2 separate regions of the Homo sapiens genome follow, and region 1 is linked to region 2. The links come from fine-mapping of genetic effects on gene expression. A gene starts in region 2. The other region holds a variant in brackets. All regions are shown on one strand. Distances are from middle to middle. Region 1 overlaps UTS2B (urotensin 2B). Region 2 holds the start of CCDC50 (coiled-coil domain containing 50).

Region 1 (5,491 bases), 27 kb after region 2:
ACCTAGGTTATGAAATAATGTGTATAACAAACCCCATGACACACTTTTACCTATGTAACAAACCTGCACATCCTGCACATGTACCACTGAACTTAAAAGTTTAAAAAGAAAAAATGACAATCAATATAAAAATAGCTAGTGTTTGGTGAGTTTCTGTACAATAGAATTTGAGGTTAAAGAGGATACGAGAGCATTATATTCACATTGTATAAATTTGCTTTCTGCAGAAGCAGAAGGATCCAAGTCAAAGGAGTTTATTTGGGAGGAAATAGCACGAGAGAATGGTGAGTAGGAGAAATGTACCTGGGAAAGGAAAAATGCCAATAGAATATGTTAACTAGCTAGTTACCAACGTGGGCAACTGGAACATAACCTCTCTAGCGAACTGGGATGATGGTGAGCAACATATTTCAGAGTTGCCCCAGTGAAGATCAAGGAAACCAGCATATTTATTTCTCAAATTCCCATCTTTCACTAGATGAAGTTTGCTTCAGGTTTCCTTTAAAAGCCACCAGCCAGGCAGGGCGCAGTGCCTCACGCCTGTAATCCCAACACTTTGGGAGGCCGAGGCAGGTGGATCACTTGAGGTCAGGAGTTCTTGACCAGCCTGGGCAACATGGTGAAACCCCGTCTCTACTAAAAGTACAAAAATGAGCCGGGTATGGTGGCGCATGCCTGTAATCCCAGCTATGGTAGGAGAATCTCTTGAGCCCAGGAGGCGGAGGTTGCAGTGAGCCGAGATTGCGCCACTGCACTCCAGCTGGCACAACAGAGCAAGACTCCATCTCAGAAAAGAAAAAAAAAAAGCCACCAGGCAATTCTTTCTTCTGCAATATATCCTTCCCCATTGAAGAGTCTGGGACCAAGCTGGACCTAACTAAGTGTGTGCCTCATCCTGTTCTCTGACCACATCTGCGTGGCCAGATTCTAATCTTAAATGGCATGAGCATTGGTCAAAACCACATGTGATACTCCGCAGACAACTGTTCATTGTACTGTCAATCTGAAATACAAGGAAAAACATTGGGAGAGAAACAAGATAAAAACATCAGAACTCATCCAATGTCATAATATTTGTGAGTAGTGCATCATAGATTAGATCTAGGCATTCTGAGTCCTAGTGATAGGCTCTTTTCAATAAGGAACACAACTTCTTGAATGATTTTAAACCTCGTAACATGATAGTCACATGGTTAGAGATAAATAGGCATTTGTGAATTAACAGTGAGTTTTTTTTTTTTTTTTAAGGAAATGTGTTTCCAGACACTACTGCCCAAATTTTTATCTTGAATTCTTCCTTTTCAGAGCAAATGTGTGTTCAAAGGACATGTGGGATGTCTGTTAGAGATATCTCATGCTAAAGCTATGATTGGAGCTGAACCTCAGAAGACAATAAAATTGATAGTTTTATAGGGGTGAGGGGAATTTTCCTTCCACCCTCTGAAAGTTTGACAATTTGAGTCTCTGGAATAAATTGACAGCAGATATATTAACAAGAGAAAAGATACCACAAGTTTATTATGTGGATATGCACGTGGGTCCTACAAAGTATGAGACTCCCAGAAGAGTTGGGTGGTTGAAGTTTATACAGTATCCTCAGCTACAAAAAGATATAGGGGACTGGGACATCTAGAGTCAGGCGGCCACAGGTTATGGGGTGCTGAAGGGAAGAAACACATGAGGAACAAATGCTGTTTTTGTGCAGATGAAGTTTCTCAGGTAGCAGTCCACAGAAGAATAGGTAGTGTCAATCTTTTTTCTCCTTTCCTGTTAGTTAATCTTCGCTATTTGATGATATTATTGTAAGGAGGGGCCTCATGACAATTGCATTCCTTTCACAGGAACTTTCTTTAGTGAGTTAAGGGAACTTTAGAGAGAGCCTCTTCATGCCTGCTTTGGGAGGGAAAGAGGAGCAAGAGACTAGGGGAACAGAGAAGGTCAGAGAGGCCTTGTTTCTCCTTTAGTTCAAAGCACTCAGCGTAACAAAAGTGCCATATTCTGGGGCATAATTTTTCTGAGTCCCAACAGTTTCTACAACCTTTGCCTTCCAGAGAATCCTTTCTTCTCAATCTCCATGTCTTAGCAAAGCAAACAGTAGTGCCAATAAATCTGAGTTTATGTTGTTATAGTAGTTAATGGACTTAACGAACAGCTCAGCTAAACAATCATATACAGGCAGGAGGTATAAATTATACAGGTGTCACAGGTTGAAACCTAGAATTGAGTTTCAGCCTGGGAGGCCACATGGGTCCATGGCTTTGCCCAGGAAGGAATTCAAGAGTGAGCCAACAGAATTAAGTGAAAGCAAATTTGTTAAGAAAATAAAGGAATACAAGTATGGCTACTCCATAGGCTGAGCAGCCCTGAGGGCTGCTGGTTGGCTGTGTTTATGGTTATTTCTTAATCATATGCTAAACAAGGGGTGGATTTTTCATGAGTTTCCTTGGAAAGGGGTGGGAAATTAGAGGAACTGAGGGTTTCTCCTCCTTTAAGACTACACAGGGTAACTTTCAGAGGTTGCCATGGCATTTGTAAACTGTCATGATGCTGGCGGGAGTGTCTTTTAGTGTGCTAATACATTACAATTAGCTTACAATGGGCAGTGAGGATGGCCGGAGGTGACTTTCAGCGCAATCTTGAATTTGGTGGGTTTTGGCCTGCTTTTCGATTGCATCCTATTTTATCAGGTCAGTGTCTGCATGACCTGCATCTTGTGCTGACCTTCTATCTCATCCTGTGACTAAGAATGCCTAACCCCCTGGGATTGCAGCCCAGCAGACCTCAACCTAATTTTACCCAGCCCCTATTCAAGATGATGTCACTCTGTTTCAAATGCCTCTGACACAAGCAGGATAAAAACTCCATAAATATTGACTCCATCTAACAGATTCTGTCAGAGGAAGAAATCTCATTTTGATAATGACATCTTTCTAGAGCACTGCTCTTTGAATAGGGTTTCCATAGATGTATTAATATTACCAAAAATTGGCCGGGCGTGGTGGCTCACGCCTGTAATCCCAGCACTTTGGGAGGCCGAGGCGGGCGGATCACAAGGTCAGGAGATCGAGACCATCCTGGCTAACTCGGTGAAACCCCGTCTCTACTAAAAATACAAAAAAAAATTAGCCGGGCATGGTGGCGGGCGCCTGTGGTCCCAGCTACTCGGGAGGTTGAGGCAGGAGAATGGTGTGAACCCAGGCGGCGGAGCTTGCAGCAAGCCGAGATCACACCACTGCACTCCAGCCTGGGCGACAGAGCGAGACTCCATCTCAAAAAAAAAAAAAAAAAAAA[AT/T]TACCAAAAATTTAGTTAATAAAACAAATACCAATTGTTCAGTATCTAACTTCATCTATAACTCAATGTTTTGATAACATTGAAGAATCTTCACAGTTCTCAACACTCTTGTGGTGAGAAACTCAGTGAAACTTGTGGAAGACAAGGTAGTGGCACTGTGACTCAATGAAGACTGAGCAAAATGGCATTTTGCAAAGCCAGGGATGTCTGAACTACTGTATTTTTTTCCATTCAAATCTTTAGGGCACCAGCTAGAATGAGACAAATTTTCTTTTCTAGTTTCACTAAAGCTTATGCAAATTCTTGAATCTGTTTCACCACCCGGAAAGACAGCTAAAATCCACCTAAAGAGGAACAGGCTGGGTTAGTCAAGGAAAGAAGGTGACATATTTTGGTTAGGGCAGTAAGTCACTTTCATAAATAAAGAAGAAAAAGTGATAAAATGGAATGCACACAAAAATAGATTTATGGAGGAAAAAGAGTAACCATACCAAGAATATTAGTTTTTTCTCAAACTGCTATAAATAAATACCTGAGAATGAGTAATTTGTTTTAAAAAGAGGTTTACTTATTGTATGGTTTTGCAGATTGTAAAGAAAACATAGAGCTTCTGGGGAGGCCTCAGAAATCTTACAATTATACCTGAAGGCAAACATAAAGCAGGCACATCTTACATGGCCAGAGCAAGAGCAAGAGAGAGAGGGGGCAGTTGCCACACACTTTTAAACAACCAGATGTCATGAGAACAGCCCCAAAGGGGGAATTCTACCTCCATGATCCAATCACCTCCCACCAGGCCCCACCTTCAACACTGGAGATGACAATTTGATGTGACATTTGGGTGAGGGCACAGAACCAAACCATGTCATTCTGCCTCTGGCTCCTCCCACGTTTCACATCCTTCTCACATTGCAATACAGCCATCCCTTCTCAGCAGTCCCCCAAGTCTTAACTCATTCCAGGATTCACTCAAAAGTTAGTCCAAAGTCTCATCTGAGACAAAGCTAGTGCCTTCTGCCTATGAGCCTGTAAAACTAAAAACAAGTTAGTTATTTCCAAGATACAATGGATTTACTGGCATTGGGTAAATACTCCCATTCCAAAAGGGATAAATTGGCCAAAAGAAAGGGGCTACAGGCCAGGCACGGTGGCTCACACCTGTAATCCCAGCACTTTGGGAGGCTGAGGTGGGCGGATCATGAGGTCAGCAGTTTGAGACCAGCCTGGCCAACATGGTGAAACCCCATGTCTACTAAAAATACAAAAATTAGCCAGGCATGGTGGTGGGCGCCTGTAATCCCAGCCACTCGGGAGGCTGAGCTGGGAGAATCGCTTGAACCAGGAGGCAGTGGTTGCAGCGTGCCGAGATTGCACCACCGCACTCCAGCCTGGGTGAAAGAGCGAAAACTCCGTGTCAAAGAAAAAATGTATATATGTGTATATATAAAAAAAAATGTTAAAAAAAGAAAAGAAAGGGGCTACAGGCACCATGCAAGTCTGAAAGCCAATGGGGCAGTCATTAAATCTTAGAGCTCCAAAATAATCTCCTTTGACTCCATGTCTCCTATCCAGGGCACATTGATGCAAGGAGTGGGTTCCCAAGGTCTTGGGCAGCTCCACCCCTGTGACTTTGCAGGGTTCAGCCCCCGTGGCTGCTCTCAAGGGCTGGTGTTGATTTCTTGTGGCTCTTCCAGGTGCAGGGCACAAGTTGTTGGTGTATCTACAATTCTGGTGTTTGGAGGATGGTGGCCTTCTTCTCCCAGCTCCATTAGGCAATGCCCCAGTGGGGACTCTGTGTGGGGGTTCCACCCCCACACTTCCCCTCTGCACTGCTTTAGTAGAGGTTCTCCATGAGGGCTCAGCTACTGCAGCAGGCTTTTGCCTGGACATCCAGGCTTTGCCGTACATCTCTAAAATCTAGGTGGAGGCTCTCAAGCCCCAACTCTTGCACTCTGTGCACCCACAGGTTTAACACCACATGGAAGCTGCCAAGGCTCATGGCTTGCACTCCCTGAAGCAGCAGCCTGAGCTGTATCTGGGGTCCTTTTAGACGTGGCTGGAGCTGAAGCAACTGAGCTGTGAAGAGCAGTGTCCAGAGGCTGCAAAGGGTATTGGGGCCCTTGCCCTGGCCCACAAAACCATCCTTCCGTCCTAGACCTCTGGGCATATGATGGGAGGGACTGCCCCTAAAGGTCTCTG
Region 2 (5,242 bases):
TTAGAATACATCATTCATGTCTTGGTACGAAATCAGAAGACCTAAGGGTAATATAAATGTATATGAAGAGTTTTATGTTTTTTCACTCACATGAATAGGGGATTGGATAAAATCATAGCACCATATGATTAATACTATACATACCAGGTTTTGTTTGAACTCCAATTCTCATTCTACTCACCATGCACTACACACTGCACAAGGATCACTCTTTCTCTAGAGACAAACCCAACACATACCCACACAAAAAACCCTCATATCCAAAAGTAAAGGATAACCAGACAATCTCTAAGATAAGAACTCTCAAAAGTATGGATCCGCCTTTCCTATCGCTCAGCCTCCTTAGTCTTGACAGCAGAGTGAAAACTGTTTTCTACAGGTGAAAGCCCTAAGTCTTCATCAAAGCCATACCAGGGACGGAAAGGTAGAAAAGTATTAACGCTAAAATCTCACGCCTAAGCTTTAACACCCTTCCGGAACAGTAAGACAGAACTAGGCCCATCAGAAATTCTACATAAAATCAGTGACCACTAGTCACTAGTCTCCTAGTGCTTGAAACTCTGAGAAAGCAATCAAGCAGTCCCTCATTTTCCTGAGATTTTTGGGCTGGCCTGAGCACACACAAGACCAACGGAGTCAAATTAAGTTGGCAATAAAACAAGCGGTTCCAAGAAAGCAAAAACTATTTTCAATTCCACATCTCCAAGACGCCTCAGGCTACAGTATTCAATCGATACAAATGACATTCACAACAGAAGCCGATTTTGCAAAGCCCTTGGAACTTAGGGGTCTGCGTCAGCACTCTGGAACGTCTATGCTTCCTAGGACCAAAGAATAAACAAAGATAACTCAAGGCATAAGGCGATCCAGCACCTAAGATCTCAGCAAAAAAAAGCTAGGTCCTGAGGCAGCTAGTGGAAAAACAAGAGAAGGGAAGTCAAAAGGCTACTTGCTGTCAGCTAAAGCCAGGTCAGTACTAATCTCTACTTTCCTGGACATTGGTACAAAAAGCAATGACAAGGCCATCAGTCCCCTGTTCCCCTCGCTCACTATTGTGTGTGTGTGTGTGTGTGTGTGTGTGTGTGTTTTGTTTGTAAGAAAATGCTTATAGTGGCTTCCCGCCCGCGCAGAACACAGCCAAGACTAAACTTTTAAACCTTGAGGAAGGTGGGAAAGTCAGCCAGCCAGACGCCGGCCTAGGAAAAGTAGGGAGAGAAGGAGGGAAAGAGTCATGTTTCAAAACAAAGGCTCCACACGGAACTGAATGTCAACCCCTCTCCACTTCCCAGCCTTCAAGCCAGCCAGGCTGGGCCTCGATTTTTTAGAAGCGGAGTAAGTCAGATTCACCCGGCTCTCAGCGTCCACTGAGGCTTTGCGATGCACGAGAACACGGGCACAGCCACCTACTTGCTGGGGCTGCTGCTAGCCCCCCCCCCCCCCAACCACCCCCTTGAGAAAAAACGGGCTTGGAACGTCGGAGACTTGCCCAACGTCCCACACTAGAACCTGAATTCAATTCCTTTCACGTCCGGGCAAGGCCAACGCAGGGCGGGCACCGGGCGAGGGCCGCGGGAGCCGAAATGGCAACGCCCCTGACCTGAGAGAACCTCGGGCTGGGAGAGGGGAGGGTCCCGCGCGCTCTCCCTCCGGGGCCCTTACCTTCCTTGACTCCAGGCAGCTTGGACTGGTCGATGCTGACTTCAGCCATACCGGGCCAGGGTCCCGGTTGCCCCTTTAACGCGGGCTTCCCGGTCACCGCCGGCGCCGAGCGGGGCCCCGAGCGCAGCAGCAGCGCCGGACGCGGCGCAAAGTCCGGCCGGCAGGGCTCGCAGGCCGGAGAACGGAGCGGGTCGGGCGGGCAGGGGCTGGTGACCAAAGCAGCGGGAGACGGTCCCCGAGGCACCAAGCTGGCGGCCCAGCTGCCCCGCCGCGGCCACCTGCTCCGCGTCCCCGGCCCCAATCGATACCAAATATCCGGAGCCCGGAAATGGACCGGGGCCGTCCAGTACGGAGGGAGAGAGGAGACAGAAAGGCGGGCGGGCCGGCTGGGGGAGGGGGAGCTGCAGGTCTGTAACCGCAATTGCGAGTGGCTGGCGAGCGAAGATCAGCGCCCGCTGCCGCCTCGCTGTTGTCTCCTTTGTGCTCAGTGACGCGCCGCCTGAGGCTGGGGCCCCGCTGTGCTCCCGCCCCCGGGCCCTGCCCCCCTCCTACGGGAGGGTCGCGTCTTTAGGTGGGGGCCTTGTATCCTAAAGGCCTCAACAAAAAGGCCACACGGGTCACCTAAAACATAGTCTTTCCCGTGAGCGGTGTAGTCAGCATTCTGTGGTCTGGTTCTGGGATTGAGATTAACACAGGATGTTTACTGCATGCTTGCCTCTCTCTCATACACTCTTTTTGCACCCGGAATTAGAGGAGAGATGGTAGATGGCCATAAAAACCCCAAATACAACGTACAGAATGAAGAGCAGCTGATAAAATTCTGGGCCAGTTTGGAGTAGAGTGTGTACACAATCAGCTGGGAGAACTGAGTCATTCATTCATCAAAATCGCATGAATGTGTCTACCAAGTGTGATGTTAGGTACTGTGGGTGATAACGAGGCGTCAGACTTATCTCTGTTATAGCGCTGCACACATTGGATTGTAATTGTGACATTTCTATCTCTCTAAAATAGACAACCTCTCCTGTTTCATCTCCTGGCAACAGAATGCATCCTCCTTTTGGGAAACTGCCTCTTTCCCCACTCCTCAGAGGTGAGCTTCTCTCCCAAACGTGTGCCATGTCTGAACCTCGAGACTACCCCATCACTCTTCCCCCTTCCTCCACCGACATGGGTTCATCGAAGGGTGGCTGGGTGACCAAGACAGGTCAAACAGAATACTTTCCTGGGTACATAAAGAGTTACATATTCTGTTTCTTGTGGAAAAGATCTGCCTCTAGGAGATGATGAGGCCAAACTGAAGACAGAAGCAAAGAGAAGAGAAAGGGAGATGAAGAGGGCATGTTCTGATGTTACCACAGTAGCAAAGCAGGATATCCCCAGAGCAGCTGGCATTTCAGCAACTCCTGGATTCTGGGATCTACAACCCGCAAACTCTCAACTTATCCTCAGTTTTGCTTAAGCTAGTAATAGTTGATTTTCTGTCACTCACAGCTCAGAGTCCCAGTATGAGAGGCCACGTAGGGGAGGTTTTATTTGAACTTGACATTGAAAAGTAGGTGGATTTTAGGCTAGCAAAAATTTAGAAGACTTTCAAGGCCAGAGGGTAGCAAAGTATAGCCCACAGGCCAAATCTACGCCACTGAATTTGAATGACTGTTTTTTATATGTTCAAATAATTACATTTCAAATCACTACATAAATAGGACATAATATTTTCGACCTTGCCTCTTAAGCCTCAAAGTCTAAAATATGCTTTACAGGAAAAGTTTACCCACCCCAGTGCTAGGCAGAGATAACACTCAGCAGGTTAAATGTGGGAATAAGAAGGAAGTGGTATTAGAAAGGTAGATTTATGGGAATTTTTTAATTGTCCTGTAATCTAGTAATTTTTTTTAACTTCCTGTGGTCTAGAGAATATTTATAACAGCAGTATTTTCTGTTTCCCTCCCCAAATCTATCGTTTCTACTTCTCTACCAAGCCGTGCCTTTGGATGCCTACAGATAAATCACTAGGCCCCTTTGACCTGTGGCTTCCTGTTGTGATTGACCAATGGGAAGCACTGGCAGAAAATCAAAAGAAGGGAGGAGAGAAATATCAGAGTATTCTTCTTTCCTTTAACCCAAAATTTTGGCCACAGTCCTGTCCCTCTATGACTACAGGGCCTGTGTAGAGGCCTCTTTTCCATGGCCTCAGCTCTCATGGGTCTCTAATAAAACAATTTGTTTCCAGTGTCCCTTCAGGCCTAGAGTGTGATGGCTTCCCCTAGTTCCTTTTGGCTCACTGCAACTTCTGCCTCCCAGGTTCCAGTGATTCTCGTGCCTCAGCCTCCCGAGTAGCTGGGATTACAGGTGTGCACCACAACGCCTGGCTAATCTTTTGTATTTTTAGTAGAGGCAGGGTTTTGGCATGTTGGCCAGGCTGGTCTGGAACTCCTGGCCTCAAGTGATCCGCCCACCTCGGCCTCCCAAAGTGCTGGGATTACAGGCACGAGCCACCACGCCCGGCCTCCCCTAGTTCTCTTAACCCAGTTAATACCTCTGAAATTGTCTCTTCATTACATTCTTTTCAGTAAAATCACTTACAGTGCACCTCCTGTTTCCTACCTAGACTGTGACTGTTACAGTAAGATATGCCAAAAGTAAGATATGCTTAAAATATGATGTGCTTACAGTAAGATATGCATAAAAATATCCACATTTCTGGCCTAGAGAAGAAATGGAAACATATATAATAGCCACAACTATTGTTTAGAGAATCGGCTGCTTTCAGCAGAAAAAGTAATGAAAACCAGGAGCCCTTTTCAGGTACTAGAGCAGATGACCTGGAAATCCACCCCATAGTTGGGCTTTCCTTCTCCTACTCCACACCTGTTCTGTATAGGTCCCCAAGCTGAGCAAACAATTAGAGCTCAGCATTACAGAGTAGGCAACTTCTAGCAAAGGACTGACAGTAACACGGGGAAGAGCTAGTATCTTTTGAGTATTTATAGGGAATGAACATATGGTGAATTTCTGTAACAAGTTTACATCTTTTGGTGTCCTGAAATGTCCATTTTGCAATAAAAGAGAAAGCATAAGGCTTCTCAGGATGGATACAGATCCCTAATTTGGGGCAGATGCCAAACAAGTAATTCAGCATCAAATCACAACTTGAATGCCATAGAGAGAAATAAGGATTTTATTTATAAGGCAATATGGAGGCATCAATTGATTTTTTTTTCTAGGTGGATATTACATGATACATTTTCTACTTTTATAAAGTGAATTTGGTAACAATAAAATGCTTGGATTGGAGTAGGGAGACTTTGGTCATAAGAAATGAAAACTCCAGTTTGAAAACTACCAAATTCCACAAAAGCATCCCCCAGTTAGAGCTTACCTTACTAGAAGGTAAGCTCTGTGAGGGCAGGGGTTTATCTGTTTGATTCCCTAATATCCGCGTATCTAGAAAAGTGCTTGGCACATAATAGGCACTCAATAAATATTTGTTGCATAAATAAATAAATATAGTTATCCAATTTTATTATCAGTAAGAATCACAAATTAAAAGTAAGTTAAAAAAACAATATAGGCAAATGAA

Evidence for each region. PIP is the estimated chance that this variant, and not a neighbour inherited with it, causes the effect.
Region 1: its variant is the best candidate, but not a certain one, in a credible set for the expression of CCDC50 in monocytes after Pam3CSK4 (Quach 2016, PIP 0.83).

The regions. Positions count from the first base shown.
Region 1 is chr3:191,299,285-191,304,775 of GRCh38, reverse strand. It overlaps UTS2B (urotensin 2B), which reads left to right. Exons shown (of 9, transcript NM_198152.5): 4 at 228-284. Among named protein-coding and RNA genes, the nearest start is that of CCDC50, 27 kb to the left of the region's middle. RefSeq lists enhancers at 2,316-2,841, 5,118-5,177, 5,188-5,367. The variant AT/T (reference allele first, on the strand shown) is at 3,292.
Region 2 is chr3:191,326,141-191,331,382 of GRCh38, reverse strand. It overlaps CCDC50 (coiled-coil domain containing 50), which reads right to left and starts at 1,989. Exons shown (of 12, transcript NM_178335.3): 1 at 1,660-1,989. The coding sequence starts at 1,708. It overlaps UTS2B (urotensin 2B), which reads left to right and starts at 857. Exons shown (of 9, transcript NM_198152.5): 1 at 857-969; 2 at 2,674-2,752. RefSeq lists enhancers at 1,220-1,820, 1,821-2,422 and silencers at 1,834-2,113, 2,214-2,293.